Linked DNA regions of Homo sapiens. The protein of the gene in region 1 purifies or fractionates together with the protein of each later gene. This does not show direct contact. Each region holds a gene or a part of one and is shown on either strand. Other genes may lie near its edges.

The links.
Region 2: the proteins of NXPE2 (region 1) and LMF1 purify together in Homo sapiens (affinity purification with mass spectrometry; one large-scale study listed by BioGRID and IntAct). This does not show direct contact.
Region 3: the proteins of NXPE2 (region 1) and PRXL2A purify together in Homo sapiens (affinity purification with mass spectrometry; one large-scale study listed by BioGRID and IntAct). This does not show direct contact.
Region 4: the proteins of NXPE2 (region 1) and HELLS purify together in Homo sapiens (affinity purification with mass spectrometry; one large-scale study listed by BioGRID and IntAct). This does not show direct contact.
Region 5: the proteins of NXPE2 (region 1) and PGAP1 purify together in Homo sapiens (affinity purification with mass spectrometry; one large-scale study listed by BioGRID and IntAct). This does not show direct contact.

The regions. Positions count from the first base shown.
Region 1 is NC_000011.10:114,680,508-114,685,409, forward strand, and holds part of NXPE2 (NXPE family member 2), read left to right. Parts: intron 1-4,902.
Region 2 is NC_000016.10:957,104-962,005, forward strand, and holds part of LMF1 (lipase maturation factor 1), read right to left. Parts: intron 1-4,902. UniProt on the Homo sapiens protein: Involved in the maturation of specific proteins in the endoplasmic reticulum. Required for maturation and transport of active lipoprotein lipase (LPL) through the secretory pathway. Each LMF1 molecule chaperones 50 or more molecules of LPL.
Region 3 is NC_000010.11:80,424,863-80,429,764, forward strand, and holds part of PRXL2A (peroxiredoxin-like 2A isoform 1 precursor), read left to right. Parts: intron 1-1,003; coding exon 1,004-1,144; intron 1,145-2,469; coding exon 2,470-2,634; intron 2,635-4,902. UniProt on the Homo sapiens protein: Involved in redox regulation of the cell. Acts as an antioxidant. Inhibits TNFSF11-induced NFKB1 and JUN activation and osteoclast differentiation. May affect bone resorption and help to maintain bone mass.
Region 4 is NC_000010.11:94,551,325-94,556,226, reverse strand, and holds part of HELLS (lymphoid-specific helicase), read right to left. Parts: intron 2,102-4,902; coding exon 1,979-2,101; intron 1-1,978. UniProt on the Homo sapiens protein: Plays an essential role in normal development and survival. Involved in regulation of the expansion or survival of lymphoid cells. Required for de novo or maintenance DNA methylation. May control silencing of the imprinted CDKN1C gene through DNA methylation.
Region 5 is NC_000002.12:196,916,142-196,921,043, forward strand, and holds part of PGAP1 (GPI inositol-deacylase), read right to left. Parts: intron 4,010-4,902; coding exon 3,856-4,009; intron 453-3,855; coding exon 277-452; intron 1-276.

The DNA.
Region 1 (4,902 bases):
CCTCTCTATAAATATGTGTTCTCTAGATTTCTTCCTCTGATCCTCTTCTCTTCTATGCTTGTACCTTTTAATTCATTTGCCCAGGTCCTACCCACTACCAATATTAGTGTTTCACAAAGTGAAGTCTGGGAGCCTTCTGCCCAGAATACCTGTTCTTATACCTGTGTGTAAAATGCAGATTCCTGAGCCATACTCAGAACTACTGAAATCTCAGTTTGAGCCTAAGATTACAAAGTATTAACAAGCTCCTCAGTTTATTCTTAAGCATGCTAACATTTGAGAATCTCTGCTATGTCCTTCCAAAAGTGAAACCTCTTTCCAGCCCCACTCTTGAATATGTGCTATTCATTGGATATCTCCATCTAAGTCTTCCACTAGCACTACCAAAACAAAAAACACACACACCAAATTTATCATCTGTCTCACCATCATCCCCTAACAAAAACAAAACAAGCATACAAAATCAAATGGAAACAAATTCTCTACTTTTATCTCTCCAGTCTTAATAATTGTTGCCATAGCCTGTGTAGTCAATCAAGCTAAAACTCCCTCCACAAGCTGATCAGCCACTAAGTCTTATAAATCCTACCTCCAAAATGTCTCTCAAGTCTATCCTTTTTTTCTCCATCCACATTGTCTTTCTTTAGACCGATACTTTGTCATTGCTCATCTAAATTGTTGAAATAGTTTTCCAATTAATTTCCCTGCCTCCAGTCTCAGCCTGCTCTAAGCACTCATTCAAAAAACCTTTGTTAAATGTATATTGTGTGTCAGGCACTGGTCTAGGAATTAAAGATACAGAAATACAGGATATCATGTTTGTGTTCAAGAATCTGAAATTTTATTTCTAAAATGAAAATGTGAATATGGTACTCTACCTTCAGCAGCTCCTCATGTAGCATGTGTATGGCCCAAATGCCTTGGCACAGTGTTTTATTGGACTCATTTAAATAAAGGGCACAGAAACTCACTAGGCCTGGTCCAAGACATCCTTGCACTGGCTGTTTTCTTTTTCTTCCCTTTCTCCAGGTTTTCATGTAACTTCCACGTAGTTCTTACTTCCTTCAAGTCTTTTTCATCTTCTTGATTTAACACCAGACACATCCCCACTCCCACCTCTTAGCATTCCCCTTACTCTGTTTGATTTTTTTAACATAACGATTATAATTATTACTGATAACAGGCATTAAGTCATATCAGAATTATAGGAGTTTCCCGTAATTTTGGAATACATGCCAATAACATATTTATACAAATATAGCCCAAAGGAAACCAAACACCATTTTATATTTGACAATGCTTCCTGTATAATTTTTATACCAAATAAGCTACACACGTCATTTTTGGACTATAGGGAACCTATTAGTAATATCTTAAAGGATTAATAAGGTCAGAAAAAGACATAATTTATAATTTGATTTTGGAAAGTTTGTCAAATATCAAAGGTTTAAAACACTTGATATTACAAAATAGGATCACAGGTCATTGTAAAATAAATCATTCATTTAACCAAAGTGATAACTCAAGGATTTTCTTAAAAAGGCAAAACCTTCATTCTATGAGAGAGGAGACTTAATTTTCCAAACAATAAGCCCTAATAAAAACAACAAGAAGCCTATTAAATTTATTTTCCAAAATTGTATAAACAATCTATAACATTTTCATCCTGATCATAAGATATAACTTCTGTAAGTCTTTATAACCTTTATGAAGGAGTAGGTTAATGCTTCAAGAAAACCTTGTTAATCTGACATAGGGGCCCACATGCTGGTCTCGCATCAGTGTGCTTTTGACATTAATGATTAATTTATAAAGAAAGTGAACTTACTTTATCTTTTAAAGTTGGCCCTTACAATCTCATATGCCCACCTCTTCCAAGATAGTCCCTGGGCCTTGAGGAGTTGAATGGCTTTAATTTCTGGCCCTGTGTCTCAGGAATGCAGTTAATTTTGATTGGCATCTTCTACCAGGCCTGAAGATGAGGCTTTAATTGCTGTCAGAGCTTAAGTTTAGCAGGACTTGGTGTTCTTTTTAGACCCAGAAGTCAAAGCCCTGTAGCTCAATGTCACAAGGACTTTAAAAGCACATACAGGAAGATGCAAGGAAGTAATAACGTTAATTAAAATTTTTTTATTCTCAATTTTTCCTGAGCAAACCAAACTTAATAATAATGCATAGGAATTATTTTGATAAAACTTAAAATCTGTTAGTCCAGTTACCAAAAGGCAAAAGAGAAGACCTTTTGTAGTGCACAGAATATTATGTTGGAAGAAGACATTTCCTTTAGACCTTTAAGAAAACATTGCTAGCATAAGGCCACAAGAAACAGAACCTGAGGAGGAAAAAAAAAAACTTATAGGAACTGAAAATGAGTTGAAGGGTATTGTTACTATTTCATGTTTTTTAAAAGGGGAGAGAAAACCAAAACCCGTGAGATGCAATAAAAGTTGAACTTTGGGTTAAAATAAAAAAATTAAAATATCTTATAATTTATTAAAATTAAATAAACCCCTTAAGAAAATTTCATTGTTCTAACCAATTCTATTATTCAGCGTATAAGTGGTTTTTTAAATATAAAACCTGATCTATAGAAAGACCATTATAATTTCCCTTTAATCATAGAGAACTAGATCTTATAAAAGTTTTTGAGTTTTTTAAAATAAATCCTCTTATTGTCACTTACACAGGCTGTTCATGACTTGCTTGGACTTTCTGGTTTGTTCTGAACATCCCTTTTCCTTTAACAGCCAGTCATTTTACTCTAGGACTAAATTTACCATACAATTCTTTCTTGTTTGAATTATTTTTTGTAATAGTACTTTTCACTTTCTAAAATAATATATGATTTACTCATTTATTATGTTCATTGATTATTGTCTATCCTTACCTAGTATATAGTAACCTTTATAGAGTCAAAGTTTTTTTTTTTTTTGAGATGGAGTCTTGCTCTGTCACCAGGCTGAAGTGCAGTGGCACGACCTCGGCTCACTGCAACCTCCGCCTCCTGGGTTCAAGTGATTCTCCTGCCTCAGCCTCCCGAGTAGCTGGGATTACAGGCGCGTGCCACCAGGTCCAGCTAATTTTTGCATTTTTAGTAGACATGGGGTTTCACCATGTTGGCCAGGATGGTCTTGATCTCTTGAACTCATGATCTGCCCTCCTTGGCCTCCCAAGAGTCAAAGATTTTTATAAGTGTTTATTGGTATCACAAGTGCCTAGAACAGTCTCTGGTACATAGTAGATACTTAATAAATAACTGGTAAATAACAAAATAAAGAAAGACTGTTCAGTGATCTGGGTGAGAGGTAATGGTGGCCTGAAATAAGCTACTAACAATAAAGATGGAGAAAAGTCAATGAATTTGGCCTATAATTGACAGTAATAGTGATTGACTGTGGGAGGTAAAGAGGTAGGTTTAACCAGGAGTTACATGTTACATTCCAGGTTTGTACAACTGCATGGCTGTTGATCTCATTCACTGAAGTATTGACCAGAATAGGAGAAATAGTTAGAAGACAAAAGATGGGTTTAGGTATGAATAGTCTAGGTTTGAGGTCCTTTTAGGTCAACCAAGTGGAGATGTTGAATATATAGATCTGAAGCTGGGAAAGATCTGGCTTAGAAAAATAGATTTAGGAGGCCAGGCCCGGTGGCTTATGCCTATAATCCAAGCACTTTGGGAGGCCGAGGCGGGCAGATCACAAGGTCAGGAGATCGAGACCATCCTGGCTAACACGGTGAAACCCCATCACTACTAAAAATACAAAAAATTAGCTGGGCGTGGTGGTGGGCGCCTGTAGTCCCAGCTACTCGGGAGTCTGAGGCAGGAGAATGGCATGAACCTGGGAGGCAGAGCTTGCAGTGAGCCGAGATCACACCACTGCACTCCAGCATGGGCAACAGAGTGAGACTCCATCTCAAAAAAAAGAAAAGAAAAAAAAATAGATTTAGGAAACATCGGAATACAAATGGCAGCTGAAGTCATTGTAGTCTGTGACATTTCCTTGGATGAAGTATAAAGCAAGAAGAAAAAGTTGCTAGTGATATAATCCTGAGGAACAAAATAAGCACTTGGCTGAGGAGTTAGTGGTAGTGGAGAAAGTGCACATGGGAAGGAAGAGGACCCTTGAGAAACTTAATTGGTAGGGGTGGGGAATAGGTGAAGGTTAGAACAGCAATTAAAGGGGGAATCAGAGGCTCCAAAAATTTTCCTTTTTGTAATATGGGAGATACTTGAATGCATTTTAATTCATATGGAAAAAGGCTAATAGAAGAAAGGAGGAAATAGGAAAGAGAAGGTGTGGTTACACATGTTTGGCAGTGTGACAGGAAGTTGAATGGCTAAGTGATTACTCTTACAGTTCTCTAAAGCCAAGAAGCTTCAGGAACACAGAAATTTAGGTATTGGAGGAACTGCCTCCATGGATATTGAAGTCTACCTGGAGGATGTCAAGACTTTTAGTGATTAAGACTAGGAGCCAAGTTCTTCATGATCTTCTATAAATGAGTAAAAGAATCCAGTTGGTCAAAAAGTGACAGAGAAGAGGAGGATTATGTAGTAATTGGTGATAGTTGGTCAGATATATCATGGAGAACAAGATATCTTAGGGTCTTCTGAAAAAATATATATCCCTTAATATATATAAATCTTCAAAATATATATATTTGAAATGTGTGTGCATATGTGTATAAAACCCTGGTTTTAGTCCATTCAAGCTGTTCTAAAAGAATACCACTGACGGAATGGCTTACAAGCAATATAAATTTACTGCTGACAATTCTGGAAGCTGCAAAGTCCAAGATCAAGGCATCAACAGATTTGGTGTCTGATGAGGGACTGCTTCCTTGTTCATGGATGGGTATCTTTTCATGTGTACTTACATGGTGGAATGGGCAAAGGAG
Region 2 (4,902 bases), on another chromosome or scaffold:
TGGCACCATTGCACTCCAGCCTGGGCAACAGAGACTCCATCTCAAAAGGAAAAAAATCAATTTACAAACAAGGAATGACACAGGGATGAAAGAAGATATTGCATAATGATAACAATATCACAAGAGCAACCCCACAAGTACATGCGGCTTCCTACTGCGTGTAGGAATCTGGCTTGGGGTCCATGTCTGTGTAACTGTGCATGCTGGTTTGGAGTGAGTGTCTGTGTAGACATGTAGGAAGCTAGTACATGTACTTTTCCCCATGCATTTATAAATCTAAAAACATATAAACGGAATCTGCACATGGAAAACTACAAAACACTGATTAAAAAAATGAAACAAGATCTAACTATATGAAGAGATAGACCATGTTCATGGATTGGAAAAATCAAAATCATTAAGGTGTCAATTTGATCCATAAATTCGGCACAATCTGAACCAAACACCCAGTCAGTGCTTCCGCCGAGGCTGACAAGCTGATTCTAGAATATACATGGGAGAGCAAAGGGATTAAAAAGCCAAAATCATCTGGAAAAGAACAGAGGTGGAGGACTCATGTTACCCAATTTCAAGACTTACTAAAAAGCTAATCAAGACCACATCAAGACAGCGCAGTATTGATTAAGGAAGAGCCGCAGAACTCAATGGAATGGAAGAGACGGCCCAGACACAGCCCCCCTGCCCCCGACCCGACACACAGAGTGAACAAATTCTGACAAAGGTTCAAAGGCAACTACACAGACAAAGAGCAGCCTTGGGCCGGGCGTGGTGGCTCACACCTGTCATCCCAGCACTTTGGGAGGCTGAGGCAGGAGGATCGCTTGAGCCCAGGAATTCCAGAGCAGCCTGGGCAACATAGTGAGACTCAGTCTCTACAAAATAAATAAAAAAACAAAGAAGAGTCTCTGTAACAATCATGTTGGAACAGATGGATGTCCACATGCAAAAAGATGGACCTGAACACACTTCACACCTTACACAAAAATTAACCAAAAAGGATCATAGACCTAAATGTAAAACATAAAAGCATAAGACTTCCAGATGGAAATATAGAAGAAAATCTATGTGACTTGGGTTTGGCAACAAGTTTTTAGATACAACACCAAAAGCATAATCTATGAAATTAGAAACTGTAAATTGAACTTTATCAAACTGAAAAACTTTTGATCTGCAAAAGCTACTTTTAACAGAATGAAAACACAAGCCGCAGATTGGAAGAAAATACTGGCAAATCACACATCTGATAAAGGATTTGTATCTAGAATATTTAAAGAACTTTTAAAATTCAATAATTAGAAAACAAACAACCCAATGTTAAAGGTGGGAAGAAAAAACCAGGCCACAAGGTCTGAACAGACATAGGAAGGTGTACGGATGGCAAATAACACGTGAAAAGATGCTCAACATCCTTCATCACTGCGGAAATGCCCATGAAAACCACAGCGTGCTGTCACCACACACACGTCACATGGCCGAAGTGCTTGAAAACGGACAGTGCCCAGGCCGGGCGCGGTGGCTCATGCCTGTAATCCCAGCGCTTTGGGAGGCCGAGGTGGGCAGATCACCTGAGGTCAGGAGTTCAAGACCAGCCTGGCCAATGTGGTGAAACCCCGTCTCTACTAAAAATACAAAAATTAGCTGGGCATAGTGGTGCACACCTGGAATCCCAGCTACTCGCAAGGCTGAGGCAGGAGAATTGCTTGAACCCAGGAGGCGGAGGTTGGAGTGAGCCGACACAGCGCCACTGCACTCCAGCCTCGGCGACAGAGTAAGACTGTCTCAAAAAAAAAACCAAAAAAACAAAACAAAAAAAACACGAACATGGACAGTGCCCAATGCTGCAGAAGGTTCGGGACAGCAGGAGTGCCCTCGCTGTGCCGGGGATGCTGTGGCCTACCACTGTGGATGGCAGACGGTGGCATCTGACCCAGATAATGAAGGGTTACCTTACAAATCAGCTACTGCACCTCTCAGGCCTTCAACCTGAAAGTGTGCTCGCACAGAAGCCTCATGCAGATGCTCATAGCAGCTCTGTTCATAGCCACTAAAAACTAGAAACAAGGAAGACATCCTTCACGGTGGAAGTGGATAAATAACCGGAGGTGCATTTGTGCAACAGAAAAATAATCAGAGATAAGAATGCAGCTGTTGGTTCAGGCAATAACATGGATGAATCTTAAGTGCATTTTGCTAAGCAAAAGAATCTAGACCCAACAGGCTATATACTGCGTGATTTCATTCGTATGTCACACTGGAAAAGGCAAAACCAGAGGGACGGGAGACAGACCCGGGCGTGCCAGGGGCTGGTGCAGGGGAAGTGGTCACTCCCATGCACGGGGGACTTGGGGCTGGAGCTGGGGTGATGGAGGCAAAGCCCACAGCACTGAGCATTACACGAGATGAACTTCAATGTGCACAAACTATTGGGGGAAGACCCGACCAGGAGGTTGGGGGATGCAGATAGAATACAGGCTCCACACGCACGGATGTGAAACAGAAACACACTGGCCAGAGGGCAGGAGCCGCCTAAGCAACTCCGGAAAATGTTCTGAGTGGAGACCGCAAGGCCAGAAGGAGCTGTACACAAACGCTGCACTCCAGGGCTTTCCCCCCCGGGCCTGGGTGGACAATTCTCGCACGTGCACCAGGGCTGAGCAGATGCTAGAGGAGTCAGGGGAGCCAGGTTCCCACTAGCAGAGAGGGAGGATTCAGATGGGCCAGCAGGGAAGACTGGAATACACCGTGTGCCAGGACGGGAGGATGGAATACACCATGTTCCAGGACGGAAGGCTGGAATACACCGTGTGCCAGGTGAGAGTCAGAGTCATCGGCATGGACCAGGTTGACCTTCGTATACTTACAGATGGATAGGTGGATACGACAGAGAAGCAATCAAATGTGTGAAATGAGATAGTGACACACAGAGCCTAGCTCTACCCAGGAAGAGGGCCAGCAGCTGTGACACCCCGGGAGCAACGGCCCTCCCAGTGCCCAGACTGAAGTTTCTATGCTCCCCTAAAAAGAACCAGGGCTCCTTGGAAACAACTCATTCTAGGGCTGGGGCAGAGAAACAGAAGCTGGGCCGGAAGCATCCCTGCGGGGAAGGAGGGGAAACCCACCAGTGGTCAAAGCTGGAGGAGCTGAGCAGCAAACTCACAGTGACAGCACTGGATCATAACCCAGACAAAGACTCACAGTGACAACACTGGATCACAACCCAGACACAGACTCACGGTGACAGCACGGGATCACGACCCAGACACAGACTCACGGTGACAGCACGGGATCACGACCCAGACACAGACTCACGGTGACAGCACGGGATCACGACCCAGACACAGACTCACGGTGACAGCACGGGATCACGACCCAGACACAGACTCACGGTGACAACACTGGATCACAACCCAGACACCATCTCATGGTGACAACACGGGATCACGACCCAGACACAGACTCACGGTGACAGCACGGGATCACGACCCAGACACAGACTCACGGTGACAACACGGGATCACGACCCAGACAGACTCACGGTGACAGCACGGGATCACGACCCAGACACAGACTCACGGTGACAGCACGGGATCACGACCCAGACACAGACTCACGGTGACAGCACGGGATCACGACCCAGACAGACTCACGGTGACAGCACGGGATCACGACCCAGACACAGACTCACGGTGACAGCACGGGATCACGACCCAGACACAGACTCACGGTGACAGCACGGGATCACGACCCAGACACAGACTCACGGTGACAACACGGGATCACGACCCAGACAGACTCACGGTGACAGCACGGGATCACGACCCAGACACAGACTCACGGTGACAGCACGGGATCACGACCCAGACACAGACTCACGGTGACAGCACGGGATCACGACCCAGACAGACTCACGGTGACAGCACGGGATCACGACCCAGACACAGACTCACGGTGACAGCACGGGATCACGACCCAGACACAGACTCACGGTGACAGCACGGGATCACGACCCAGACAGACTCACGGTGACAGCACGGGATCACGACCCAGACAGACTCACGGTGACAGCACGGGATCACGACCCAGACACAGACTCACGGTGACAGCACGGGATCACGACCCAGACACAGACTCACGGTGACAGCACGGGATCACGACCCAGACACAGACTCACGGTGACAGCACGGGATCACGACCCAGACAGACTCACGGTGACAGCACGGGATCACGACCCAGACACAGACTCACGGTGACAGCACGGGATCACGACCCAGACACAGACTCACGGTGACAGCACGGGATCACGACCCAGACACAGACTCACGGTGACAGCACGGGATCACGACCCAGACACAGACTCACGGTGACAGCACGGGATCACGACCCAGACACAGACTCACGGTGACAGCACGGGATCACGACCCAGACACAGACTCACGGTGACAGCACGGGATCACGACCCAGACAGACTCACGGTGACAGCACGGGATCACGACCCAGACACAGACTCACGGTGACAGCACGGGATCACGACCCAGACACAGACTCACGGTGACAGCACGGGATCACGACCCAGACACAGACTCACGGTGACAGCACGGGATCACGACCCAGACACAGACTCACGGTGACAGCACGGGATCACGACCCAGACACAGACTCACGGTGACAGCACGGGATCACGACCCAGACACAGACTCACGGTGACAGCACGGGATCACGACCCAGACAGACTCACGGTGACAGCACGGGATCACGACCCAGACACAGACTCACGGTGACAGCACGGGATCACGACCCAGACACAGACTCACGGTGACAGCACGGGATCACGACCCAGACACAGACTCACGGTGACAGCACGGGATCACGACCCAGACACAGACTCACGGTGACAGCACGGGA
Region 3 (4,902 bases), on another chromosome or scaffold:
GACTCCATCTCAAAAATAAAAGACCTTTCATATCACAAAAAGGTGGTTTTTGATTATATCAAACACTGTAGTCCTCTGCTCTAGGGCAAAATTTGCCAGTCAGTAAAACTCTTGATAAATGTATTGTAATCAATTCTGCCTCATTAGTTGTTTTTTTTCTTACTCTAGAAAATAAATGAAAAATTAAATGTAGTTGCAACCATACAACAGCATATTTGTATTGGAGATGAGTAGACTGCATTTAAAAGGATTTTTGCTCATTCTTTAATTCTGACACCAAATGTGAAAAAAGGATTGAGTTCTTAATGTTGAAGCTTTACCATGACTCATGCAGTTTCCCTCATTCATCTAGCACACAGTTCCTGAGAGTCAAGGGTATCTGCATCTCAGCTCAGCTGCATTCTCCCCATTGTCCCCCTTCAAATCTTTCCACCTGGTATTTAGCACCTGTTTTATACCCAGCCATGTTCTAGGCACTGAGGGTTCCAAGAAATGGAAGACATAGTTTCTAACTATTAGAAACATTTGGGAATGTAAGAGACAACACTCAACTTAGTGGTAACATGCAGACTCAGTACAGAAAATGTCACCAAACAGGGAAGATAGGATATGCACAGAGAAGCAGGGCTTTACTTCAGGGTGGACTAGCCAGGGAGATCTTTTTAGAACGGGGATACCTTTCCAGAGGGTAGGGTTGAGCTGAAGAGAGAAGGAAGGTTATGGCTAGAGGAGCGTGTGTCTGCTGGGCCCTTGTGTTAGTTTGGTCTAGTGCAGGGAAGGGGCTGGGAGATGATGTAGGAGAGAAGCATTGTGGGCAGGAGGAGAGGATGTGTTTGGGTATGGCTGCTCCCAAGCTGTGGTTAGGACAGCCATAACAGGAGCCTTGCCTCTGCTTTCCACTGGAGAAGACAAGGAGCCTGGGCTGCAGAGGGAACCTGACACCCTATGTGGAGGCCCACAGCCAGCTGGGACAGATGTCCCTGAACCCTTGTGTCTTCTACAGGAAGCTGCGGATCTGTCCTCCCTGAAAAGCATGTTGGACCAGCTGGGCGTCCCCCTCTATGCAGTGGTAAAGGAGCACATCAGGACTGAAGTGAAGGATTTCCAGCCTTATTTCAAAGGAGAAATCTTCCTGGATGAAAAGGTGTGTGTGATGGGAGGCTTTTAGACACAGACTGCTGGGGATTGTGCTCAGCTGTGTGATAGTCAGGTGGCCCAGGTATGTCTGGCCTGGAGCTGGAGGCTGGCCTTCCCTTCAGCTGTCCTGAACTTGCAAGGCCTTTTTCAGCCCCCTGAGCAGAGCATGATCAGACATTTTAAAGCTGTCCTCTCAGTTACAGACAGTCCCTGACCATCTGGTGGTTTGACTTAACGATCTTTCAGCTTTGTGATGGTGCAGAAGTGATAAGCATTTAGTTTCTACATTTCTTCAAGAACCCATACAGCCATTCTGTTTTTCACATTCAATATTCAATAGACTACATAAGTTATTCAACACTTTATTTTAAAATAGGATTGTGTTACATGATTTTATTCAACTGTAGGTTAATAAGAGTGTTCTGAGCATGTTTAAGGTAGTGTAGGCTAAGCTATGAGGTTAGGTGTATTAAATGCATTTCAATATAAGATATTTCAACTTATGATGGGTTTGTAGGGACATAATCCCATTGTAAGTTGAGGAGCATCTGTATTACTTAAGTCTTTCCTGCCATGTGAACTGGGAGAGTAGGAAATAGCTGAAACTCCAACAGGTTCCTCCACTGTTGGGGGCCTAGTACAAAGCCCCACACCCTGTCCCTTAATTCATTTATTTCTTTCTCTTCTGCTCCCACCTCTGCAGAAGGTAGCACTGTTACCATCCTGTCAGGTGGAAGACTAGTGAGAAGGTAGAGTCAGAATTGAAAGCTACGGATGTCACCCTAGGTCAGGCCTACCTTGAGGTCTGAAACTGGACCCAGCAGGGTTCTGTTTTCTTGGCAGTTGAGAGTGGACCTGGATTGGCTGGGCATGGTGGCTCATGCCTGTAATCTCAGCACTTTGGGAGGCCGAGGTGGGCAGATCATTTGTGGTCAGGAGTTCAAGACCAGCTTGGCCAACGTGGTGAAACCTGTCTCTACTAAAAATTCAAAAATTAGCCAGGCATGGTGGCAGGCACTTGTAATCCTAGCTACTTGGGAGGCTGAGGCCAGAGAATTGCTTGAACCTAGGAGGTGGAGATTGTAGTCAGCTGAGATCGCGCCGTTGTACTCTAGCCTGACTGACAGAGCAAGACTCCATCTCAAAAAAAAAAAAAAAAAAAGAGTGGACCTGAATGTGGGCAGTGTGTGTGTGTTGGGTGGGAGAGAAGACTGGAACCAGCAGCCTTTTGAGTCTTTGCCTGAGAACCAATGCCCCGTCAGGAGCGTTTCCTCCTTGAGGAAGGCAGGCATGTAGAGTACTCATATGGGATCTGTCTTTCTCACTCCATAGAAAAAGTTCTATGGTCCACAAAGGCGGAAGATGATGTTTATGGGATTTATCCGTCTGGGAGTGTGGTACAACTTCTTCCGAGCCTGGAACGGAGGCTTCTCTGGAAACCTGGAAGGAGAAGGCTTCATCCTTGGGGGAGTTTTCGTGGTGGGATCAGGAAAGCAGGTGAGTTCTTGGTGTTTACTTGTGGTCTGTAGGTGTCTGTGTCTGTGAGTGTGAGACTCCAACCAGAAGCTGGAGTGGGGGTTGACTTTCCCTGTTTTGGGTCTCCTAGCCTTCCTTCTAGCAAGCCAGGGAACATGAAGAAGGGAAGGGAAGGCAGTTGTTGTTTATCACACATCATTCTCTGCTAGTACCTCATACTTGAATCTACTCACTCATCACAGTGACATCATGAGACAGTTTGATCATTTTGCAGACAAGGAACTTAGAACTGAAAAGGGATGAGCAGCTGCACAAGGAGCACAGCTCATCGGTGGCTCTGCTAGGCCTGAACTCAGGTTTGCTGACTTTAAGTTCAAGGAGCACAGCTCATGGGTGGCACTGCTGGGGCCTGAACCCAGGTTTGCTGACTTTAAGTTTTGTTTTCTGTGCTTGAACAAAAGCGTAGTTTTATTCTGTTTTTGAATTTACTCTCTTGCAGTGTTCCAGGCCACCATGGATGGATGATAGAAAAAAAAATAAGAGGAGAAAATAAGGAATAGAACCAGGCGTAATTAGGGGAAGTGGCAAGGAGGTTGCGGGGAGACGATGCTTTTTTCTGTGGGGATCTTGGTGTCAGGGCTGGCCTAGGAAAGGTATCTGACTCCTCTGCAAACAGGCTATTATTATAGGTCCTGGCTGTGAGGCTCCACAAGCAGCATGGAGCCCTAGGGGAAGGTGTGGAAAGGAGGAATGGGGTCTCTATAGGCCCAAGAGCCAGGTAGGCAGTTGTTTGTGTCAGAGTCTAGGCAGCCTTGAGCCATGGTGGTTCCCCTGCCCTGGAGGGCAGTGTCAGCAGAGGCCAGGAGGATGTGTAGCAGGGATGGAGCAAAGTGGATGAGGGGGCTGGGCGCGGTGGCTCACACCTGTAACGCCAGCACTTTGGGAGGCCAAGGCGGGCGGATCACTTGAGGCCAGGAGTTCCAGACCAGACCAGACTGGCCAACATGGCAAAATCCCATCTCTACTAAAGAAAAGCTTAAAAAATTAGCCGGGTGTAGTGGTGCGCACCCATAGTCCCAGCTACTTGGGAGGCTGAGGCAGGAGATTTGCTTGAACCCAGGAGGCAGAGGCTGCAGTGAGCTGAGATTGTGCCACTGAACTCCAGCCTAGGGGACAGGGCAAGATTCCATCTCAAAAAAGCAAGTGGATGAGGGAAGGGTATGGGAGAAGGACCTGGAAACTGGTGGCCTGACTTCTAGGCCTGTCTCTGTCAATTTTGGACATGACATTAACGTGTAGAAAGTGTTTTCTTTCTGTAGAAAGATGGGGTTTATCTGCATTGTTGGATCTCACTATTAATGTTGATAATTACATACTCTTCCCAATTTGGGAGGAATAAAAGGGAATAGAAATCCTTCAAGTTTAAGCTTTATTTCTTTTTTTTCAGATGGAATCTCACTGTGTTGCCCAGGCTGGAGTGCAGTGGTGCGATCTCGGCTCACTGCAAGCTCCACCTCCTGGGTTCACGCCATTCTCCTGCCTCAGCCTCCTGAGTAGCTGAGACTACAGGCACCCACCACCACACCCAGCTAATTTTTTTGTATTTTCAGTAGAGACAGGGTTTCTACTCATGATCTGCCCGCCTCAGCCTCCCAAAGTGCTGGGATTACAAGCTCACGCCTGGCCTGAGCTTTATTTCTTATGTCTTCCTTTTACAGCTTGGTAACTGATTCGCTTGACTATATTAGAATTTAGCATAAAATGGTGTCTGATTTAACATAAACCTATTTGCTAATTTTCTGGTAAATCTGTCAAAGTGTCTTAGTAATAATGGTTTCCAATGAGTGCCTGTCTTGTTCTACGTGCTCAAGTACATGGTCTCATGTCTTCCTCACAACCAGTCTAGGATGTTAGGCATTTTTATTCCCATCCACATATACAGCAGTTGGCCTAGAGATTTAAAATAACTCAGCCAAAGACACAGCTAAGTGGTACAATGGAAATGAAACTTAGGAACTCAAATCTGTCAAACTCCAGAGACCCTTCCCGGCCCGGCCCTGCCCTGCCCCGCCCCGCCCCTAGCCTCTCCTGCCCTGCCCTGCCCCTAGCCTCTCCTGCCCTGCCCTGCCCTGCCCTGCCCCTAGCCTCTCCTGCCCTGCCCTGCCCCTAGCCTCTCCTGCCCTTCCCTGCCCCTAGCCTCTCCTGCCCTGCCCTGCCCCTAGCCTCTCCTTGGAGGTGTTTCCCAGCGACCACTTCCTGATGTCCTTATGCTTGGGCAGGCCACTTCCC
Region 4 (4,902 bases), on another chromosome or scaffold:
CCAAACAAGCATTTCTGCAGTGACACCAGCTGGGTGTCCTCTATTGTAATTCAATTCTGACACTATCTACGGGGTGAAAGCACCATACCCCATAGGTTGAGGGTTCAGTCCCCAAGACTTTTAACTACCAGTTCCAGATGCCAATCGCAAGGCCCAAGTCGCCTTACCTGTGCTTCTTACTGAATAGCTATAAATCAGGGTTCCCACAAGCCCCTCTTTGGGTTTGACTAATTTGCTAGAGGAGCTTACAGAACTCAAAGAAACATTAAAGTTTATTGGTTTATTATAAAGAATATGACAGTCCAGGCGCAGTGGCTCACCCCTGTAATCCCAGCACTTTGGGAGGCCAGGGTAAGCAGATCACTTGAGCCCAGGAGTTCCAGACAAGCCTCGGCAACATGGCAAAACTGTCTCTACAAAAAATACAAAAATAAGACAGACATAATGGTGTGCTCCTGTAGTCCCAGCTACTCGGGAGGCCGAGGTGGGAGGGCTGCTTGAACCCAGGAGTCAGAGGTTGCAGTGAGCTGAGATGGTGCACTGCACACCAGCCTGGGCAACAGAGTAAGACTCTGTCTCCAAAAAAAAGAAAGAAAGAAAGAAAGATTACAACATATTCAGAGGAACACCAGAGAAAGAGATGTATAGAACAAGGTATGGAGAAAGAAGCGCAGAGCTTCCATGCCTTTTCTGGATGCGCCATCCTCTCCAGGAACCTCCATGTGTTCAGCTATCCAGAAGTTCTCCAAACCCTGTCCCCTTTTGGGGTTTTTTTTATTTATTTATTTTTGAGGCAGGGTCTCACTCTGTCATCCAGGCTGGAGTCCAGGGGTGCAATCTCGGCTCACTGCAACCTCCGCCTCCTGGGTTCAAGCGATCCTCCTGCCTCAGCCTTCTGAGTAGCTGGGCTTACAGGCACACACCACCATGACCGGCTAATTTTTATATTTTTGGTAGAGACGGGTTTTCACTATGTTACTCAGGCTGGTGTCGAACTCCTGGGCTCAAGTGATCTGTCTGCCTTGGCCTCCCAAAGTGCTGGGATTACAGGCGTGAGCCACTGCGCCCAGCCTGTTTTATTTTTGAGACAGGGTCTTGCTCTGTCACCCAGGCTAGAATGCAGTGGTGCCATCACAGTTCACTGCAGCCTCAATCTCCTTGGCTCAAGCCAACCTCCTGCCTCAGCCTCCCAAGTAGCTGGGACTAGAGGCACATGCCACCTTACCTAGCTAATTTTTCTATTAGAGATAGGGTTTTGCCATATTACCCAGCCTGGTCTCAAACTTCTGGGCTCAAGCAATCCACCCACCTAGGCTCCCCAAAGTGCTGGGATTACAGATGTGAGCCACACCCAGCCCTTTTGGGTTTTTAATGAAGACCTCATAACATAGACGTGATTGATTCAATCGTGACCACTGGTGAACAAGTTAACTTTCAGTCTCTTTTCCTCAAAGTTGAGGGTGAGGCTAAATCCCAACCCTCTAATCCAGGTTTTGTCTTTCTTAGGCTCCCATCCTGAAGCTACCTAAGGGCAGCTAGCCATTGATCATTAGCATTAAAAAAAAAAAAACAAAAAAAAAAACACTATTACTTTGAAGATTCCAAGGATTTCAAGAGTTGTATACCAGGAAATGGTGATGAAGACCAACTATTTACTCACTAGCACAATACCATGATTTCATTTATACAATTTTCTAGGAAAAAACAATACTGGTCTATAGTGACAGAAAGCAAATCAGTAGTTGCTGGACACCAGCCATGGGGATTACTGTCAGCACAAGACAATTTTTTGGAGTTCATGGAAGTGCACTGTATCTTGATTGTGCTGGTGGTTACACAGATCTATATATTTACTAGTCAAAACTCAGCAAACCGTACACTTAAAATCTGTCCATTTTACTGTATATAATATACACTTCAATAAAGCTATTTTTAAATTTTTTTAAGCTTTCACTTGTAGTCAGTTACATATACATACCTCTAATTGTTGCTGTTCCATTTTCGTCAATAAAAATTTGGAGTATATATTGCTTTTTTCAAGCAAATGTTGAAGTCTACGGTACCGAATTTCTGTCGACTCTCTATCCCAAGACATGCGAGCCTATCCAAAGAGAAAATTTCCATAATTATGAACACTTTCTGACATACCTTAATTTTTTTGGCATAAAGTTTAATAAAAATGGCTAAAATAACATTTTTTAAACCAAACACTTTCAAACCAAAAACTGGAACAAATAACTGTTAAAAAAAAAATAGTTTTTGGGTTTAACAGGCAATCTGATAGATGCAATTCGTATATCAAAATATTATAATTTCAAATATTGAACACATGGTTTCTGGCACTACTGAGTTGGAAGGTCCATTTAAAAAACAATTGAAGGCCGGGTGCGGTGACTCACACCTGTAATCCCAGCACTTTGGGAGGCCAAAGCAGGCGGATCACCTGAGGTCGGGGGTTCGAGACCAGCCGGACCAACATGGAGAAACCCCATCTCTACTAAAAATACAAAATTAGCCAGGCGTGGTGGTGCATGCCTGTAATCCCAGCTACTTGGGAGGCTGAGGCAGGAGAATCGCTTGAACCCGGGGGAGGCAGAGGCTGCAGTGAGCCGAGATCATGCCACTGCACTCCAAACAAGAGCAAAACTCCGTACCAAAAAAAAAAAAAAAAAAATTGGGGCCAGGCACGGTGGCTCACGCCTGTAATCCCAGCACTTTGGGAGGCCGAGGAGGGTGGATCACCTGAGGTCAGGAGTTTGAGACCATCCTGGCCAAAATGGTGAAACCCCATCTCTACTAAAACTATAAAAATTAGCAGGACGTGGTGGCGCATGCCTGTAGTCCCAGCTACTCAGGAGGCTGAGGCAGGAGAATTGCTTAAACCCGGGAAGCGGAGGTTGCAGTGAGCTGAGATGGCACCACTGCACTCCAGCCTGGGTGACAGAGTGAGACTCCGTCCGGAAAAAAAAAAAAAGGTATGTGTAATTTGCTAAAACATTGATGTTGTGGTTCCGTGTTATTATATTACCTTGTTATGTACAGATAAGGAAAATTTTTGATTAATTTTGCACTTGACCCTCATAAAAAGTGATTGCCTAGGTGACACTAGAGAATTCTAAGACAAGTTTTCAGAGTCTCTCCCTATTTGAGATTAATAAACAAGTTGATTTGGATAGAACATTTTAGAAAAATACTACCAACACAATTCATCCTAACAATCAAAACAGACATCTAGCCAAGATTAACACCCCCACCCCGTTTTTTAAGGCATGGTCTCATGCTGTAATTGGTGCAATTGTGGCTTACTGCAGCCTCCAAATCCCGGGCTCAAACCACCCTCCCACCTCAGCCTCCCAAGTAGCTGGGACTCTAGGCAGATGCCACCATGCCCTGTTAATTTTTTGTATTTTTTTTTTTTGTAAAGACAGGGTTTCACCATATTGCTAAGGCAGGTCTCCAACTCCTAAACTCAAGAGATTCGTCTGCCTTGTCCTCCCAAAGTACTGGGATTACAGGCATGTGCCACCATGCCCAACCAAGATTACCAATTCTGTAACATGAATCCAGCCTAGTAAATCAACAAACATGTACTGCAACAATTATATAAATTATGTAACTGGTAGAAGACAGAAAGTCTGATTTATACTACAGATGAGACATTAGTGTAATATCTGAAAACAACAAGTATTAAAGACATATACATAGCAGTAAACTGTACAGTACTATCTAAATCCTGAAAAATTGTAAGAATTACTAAAACTGGAGAAGTCAGATTTCAGGAAATAGATGACATCTGAGGGGTCTGAAGGATGGATAAATGAGAGCAGAAAAACTCAAGTTTTGTCAATTACTGTAGAAGTTCCTGCTTTAAGCAACACTGGCCTCAGCAACAGCACTAAAAATCACACTTAAGTTAACTTTAGAATTAAAAAGATTCTAAATTTTATAGATTAGATAGTAGATATGTTTCATTTTATACAAACTCTTGACTTAAAAAGTCTAGTGGCAGATTTTTTAGTATTTTGTTTTCTCAACTAAACCAATTCCTCTACTTTTCAACAAGGATTAGTAAAAACACAAAGTCAACCAATAAAATCTAACTGCCCCTTTCCCCAGTAATTGGTGGTTTCAACTTAAGAGGAAAGTAATTGAGCATTGTTTACAGCGTGTTTGAAATGGGGGATATGAGGCTGGGCGCGGTGGCTCACGCCTGTAATCCCAGCACTTTGGGAGGCTGAGGCGGGCGGATCCCGAGGTCAGGAGATTGAGACTGTCCTGGCTAACACGGTGAAACCCTGTCTCTACTAAAAATACAAAAAATTAGCCGCGTGTGGTTGCAGGCGCCTGTAGTCCCAGCTACTTGGGAGGCTGAGGCAGGAGAATGGCGTGAACCCGGAAGGCAGAGCTTGCAGTGAGCCGAGATCGCGCCACTGCACTTCAGCCTGGGCAACAGAGCGAGACTCCATCTCAAAAAAAAAAAAGAAAAGAAATGGGGGTATGAATTCATTTTTATACTCTAAATAATGCCCTAGCACTTGGGTAGTTTTGCTGCTCCAGCTTATCAATATCTCTAAGATATCATTTTATATTGCCTTACATTTTCCTAGCTATTACATCATCACTATAGCTTTCTTTCAAAATATATTTCTTTTTCTTTTTTGAGATGGAGTCTCACTCTGTTGCCCAGGCTGGAGTGCAGTGGCACAATCCTGGCTCACCTCTGCCTCCGCCTCCCGGGTTCAAGCAATTACCTGCCTCAGCCTCCCCAGTATAGCTGGGACTAGAGGCACCTGCCACCACACCCCGCTAATTTTTGTATTTTTAGTAGAGACGGGCTTTCACCATCTTGGCCAGGCTGCTCTTGAACTGACCTCGTGGTCCACCTGCCTCAGCCTCCCAAAG
Region 5 (4,902 bases), on another chromosome or scaffold:
TACCAATGGTTTTTAGGTAATGCATTTTACTCCTAATTTATATATAAAGTTTTAAAAAGTTTTTCTTCCTGAATTCACCATAAGAAATGTTTCTTATAAATTTAAACTTCAAAACCATTACGGAGGCCAAGACAACAGACTCTCACAAAAAAAATTTGTGCCTTCTCTGCTTCAACTTCCATATAAACAAATACATGATTTAAAGTATACTGAATCCCTTTTTTAAAAAGGTGCCGATAGGTTGCACCACTATTGATTTGCATACTTATCTCTCACCTTATAGAGTTTGAGAATTGTTTTAATACATTCATGTACAAACTTGGTCTGCTTCTGAAGACTTCCACCATACAAAGCCACCAGTTCTTCATTGAAGTTCACACTAAAGAAGTCAAAGTGGTACTTGAAGTCAATGTCCTCTGCTTTTCTAAGTGCAATGGAGCCAATAGAACGAACTGCAGAGGAAAAGAGTGAAGTGCACATTAAACAATATTTACAGGTTTCATCCATTCTTTCTTCAGAATTTCTTAGTAAATAACCTTATCCTGCATCACGAATATAAACCACCTATTTCAGGATGAAATTCATTAATAGCACCAATTTAGAACAAACTAATCTAGCAACTGTATGCCTTGAATGCAGTAAGTGTGTCATAAATATTTTTAAAATTAAATAAACAAAAAGCAAACAGATCACTCACTCTCTACCTTCTTTTCCTTTGGTAGGAGCAACAATAGCTAAAAGGGCAGGATTCTTTGAAGAATAAGACATATAAATTTTGCCACACTTATTGAGGTTTTTAAGAATGACAAGGTTCCTACAAGAAATATCCATTCATCACTTGGTTTAGATACTCACGCTTGATTTGTCTTTTTCTCCTACACAGGACATCCAATCCATCAGTAAGCGCTTTCATAATGTACCTTCCAAATCTATCCCCAGTTGAAATTTCTCACCATTCCCACCACTATTGTCCTAATCCAAACACTATTATCTCTTATCTGAACTACTCTAACAGGTTCTTTACTGGTCTCTCTGCTTCCACTCTTTTTGTTCTTGTTGTTGTTTTGCAAATCTTTTTAAAAAATATATTATAAATTGCTTATATTAGGTGGCACAAAAATTGTAGCATATGGTTTAGCAAACAAAATACCTGTTTGCCATTTCATTTTGTAAAAACATATACTATAGATACATTATAATCCACATATTATACAACTCACTATATAAAACTGTAAAATTCGATGGTTTTTAGTATATTCACCATCTCTGGTATATATTTTACAACCATCTCTGAAATCTAACATAAGATATTTTTTAATCGTTTCAAAAACAAAACTCTGTGCCTACTGGCAGTCACTCCCCATTTCTTCACTCCTCCCAAATCCTAGGCCTAGCAACCACTGATCTACTTTCTGTCTCTACGGGTTTGCCTATTTTGGATATCTCATATAATACGTGGCCTTTTGGAACTGGCTTCTTTCACATAGCATGTTTTCAAGGTTCACCCATGTTGTGACATGTATCAGTACTTCATTCCTCTTTTTTATTGAATAATATTCCATTATATGAATATGTCATATTTGATTCATCTATTTATCAGCTGATGGTCATTTAAATTATTTCCACCTTTTGGTTATTATATGCTGCTATGAACATTTATATACAAGTTTTTGTGTGGGTATATGTTTATTTTTCTTGGGTAGATACCTAGGAGTGGAATTTTTGGGCCACATGAGAGCTCTATGTTCAATATTCTGAGGAACTCCCAAACAGTTTTCCAAAGTGGCTGCACATTTTACATTTCCACCAACAATGTATGAGGGTTCCAATTTCTCCACATCTTCACCAACACTTGTTGTTATCCATCTTTCTTATTATAACTATCCTAGGAGGTATGAAGTGCTATCTCATTTTTTATTTATAGTTCTCTGATGACTTATGATGTTTTAGCATCTTTCCTGCTTCCATTCTTGCCCTTCAAAGGAAATTCTCTTCATAGTGAAGCCAGAGCAACTTTTTTTAAAAGTAAATCACACCTACCAGGTTGCTTAAAAATTTAATGTCTGACAATTCTGGTGTTGTAAAAGGATGTGGAGCAAAGGAAGGTAAAATATACTGCTTTTAGGAATATAAATTAGCACAATCAGTAAAGATTAAAAAGATACACATAACCTGTAACATGGAATTACACTCTTGGGTATCTAGCTTACAGAAGCACAGGTTTATGTGCTCCAGGAAACATATGGAATAATATTCATTATTTGTAATTGCCAATAAATGTAAACATTTATTCTGTCCAAAGACAGAATGGACAAACCATGGTATAGTCATACTACAGAATAATACAGAGTAAGGAAAATGAATGAATCACAGCTCACACAACAACTTGGATGAATGTTAAAGATAATGCTGAGTGAAAGAAGCCAGACACAAAATAATACATACTGAATGACTATATTCATATTACAAAATTTAAAAACAGCCTCATATACATAGATTGCATTAAAACTACAAAGAAAGTTAAGGAAATTACTCTCTTAACATTAGGACTGTGATTCTGTCAAGAAAGAAGGGAACAAAGTTTTAATCATGAAGGGGCACAGAAGGGGTTTCCAGGTTACTGGTAATCTACTTCTTGACTAGGGTTTTGGTTTCACGGGTGTTCACTTTATAATAATTTGTAACCAAATATCTATGTTCTATGTGTTTCTCTGTATGTAATATTTCAAATACAAAGATTACTTTTAAAAATCAGGTTATATTTTTCTTACCCAAAGCTCTCCAACAGTTTCTCATTCAAAGTCTTTTCCACAGCTTATATGATATGGCCCGTGGTTACTTTTCCATTCTTATCTCTTTTTACTTTCTCTAGTCACGATAGCCTCCAATGCACAAAACACGTTCCTGCCTCAGGACCTTCCCTCAGTCAAGCATCTCCTCAAATGTCATCTCCTCACAATGGCCTTTCCTGACCACCTCATCTAAACTAGCCACTTCCTGACCCTTTTATCTTCTACCTCCTGAGTCTGTTTTTGTTTCTAGCTTTTAACATTACTGACATATTTGTTTGATTGCTGTCTTCCTGATAAGCATATAAATTTGATGAGAGAGGGACTTTGTCTTGATATGCTCTGGATCCCTAATACCTGGAATACAGCCTGGCTCATGGTAGATACCTGTAGACACGTGCTAGATGAATAAACACGTAAATAATTGCACATGTTGAAACAATTCTAGTCTCATTACATAACAATTCTAGTCCATCAAATAACAAGAAAGCAGGTTTTAGTTTAAAACGAAATTAATTCCAGGTTATTTGGCTGTTACGCCAGAAATAACTGCTGTATCTCCAAGCCAGCATCAATTTGGAATCTGTACACGTAACTTCCCTATCTCACCTTTCTATGTTCCCCCCAGTACTTCCAAATCTCTCTAACTTAAATAACTCCAAAAGAAGAAAACGAATCTCTCTTGTTCTGCATAACATTAGTCACTGATTTACTTCCCTAATCAATGCTTAAGGTTCTGTTCTCTTTACCCTCCATTTCCAACATAAATGTGTTTCCTCTGCTGATTCCCCAAGGGGTTCCCCTTTATCATCTACTTATCCCATCCTACTCTATCTTATTCTTTGTACCCCTCTCTTTGCAAAGTGGTCTTCAACTTTTCTAAGTATTTCTCACATTATTCTCTCTCAGAGAAAATATTATATTTTGGTCTCTCTGTAAGCCCAGCACAGCACTTCACACACAGCATGCATTTCATTTACTTTATTTGATTCACCGAGTATGGATATGATTCAAATTCTTGAGTTGAATTTTATAGCTTTCAAAATTTACTTCCAGTAAGACTTACCTTGCTTATAACTTCCAGCATTACCAGGAAGAAAGAGAACTGGAATACCCGTCAAAGGGAGAATTTTGTGTTCTTCAGCATAGGATCCCTCTCCATAAAGATACAACTCATATGCGGGATAGCGTTTTGCCAGTTTCTTTGGAAGTTCTATTTTCTACATTTAAAAAAAAGTAGTTTCACTTTAATCAGTTTTATTAATACAATTCAGCCTCACCATATGCAATTCTGAATTACGCAAATTTGAAATAGTGCAATATAAAAATATTACTGATATTAAAACCACACTTCATACACAAAACAAGTTCTACTTGTAGTTTATTCATATAGAGAATCAGTCTTGAATTGTGTATATTTTGAACCATGTAGTCTTTAGGAAAACATAAAAGAGGACTACGTGAACTTCTAACCAATACAAATTACTCAAAATAGCCACTGACAATGGCAGAAAGCACTGGTATATGTCGACAAGTTACATGTTAACATAATTGGATAAGTATCAATTATACTTAGAAATGATAAAGGCTTTCCATCATCAAATCAATTCTTTTTTTCCATTTTTAACTATTTTGTAATGTCTCTCCTTTTACTCAGACCCAACTATCTATTTCAGTTGTTATATCTTCAAAAGAAAGTAAGTTGTTTTATAATGCAGCTTTCTGACTTCTCAACTTAATATGCTTTGGCCTACAATATGTGTAACAAATTAATCTTAACCTTATAGCCATGTCTTGGTCAAGACATGTACACTCTTCTTACCATAAACATTCCAGTGAATTAGTATCTATTTCAGTTTTCATGGGCCAGGTGCATGATTTGCTGGCAAACTTTAAACTACCCTGCACTTCATATTATTGTATACCAATAATACAGCAGCTCACCTAACTACTGAGTCAGTAGTTCACCTACATTTTTTTCAGCTTAGTATAAATTATCTCTTAATGTCATCCTCAAAGGTAGACATCTGTGGTAGTAAAGTATACATACACCCTTTTGCTCCTTTTCTTTTTTTATTTTAAAGGAGAGAAACCATTAAGAGTGAAACCAATT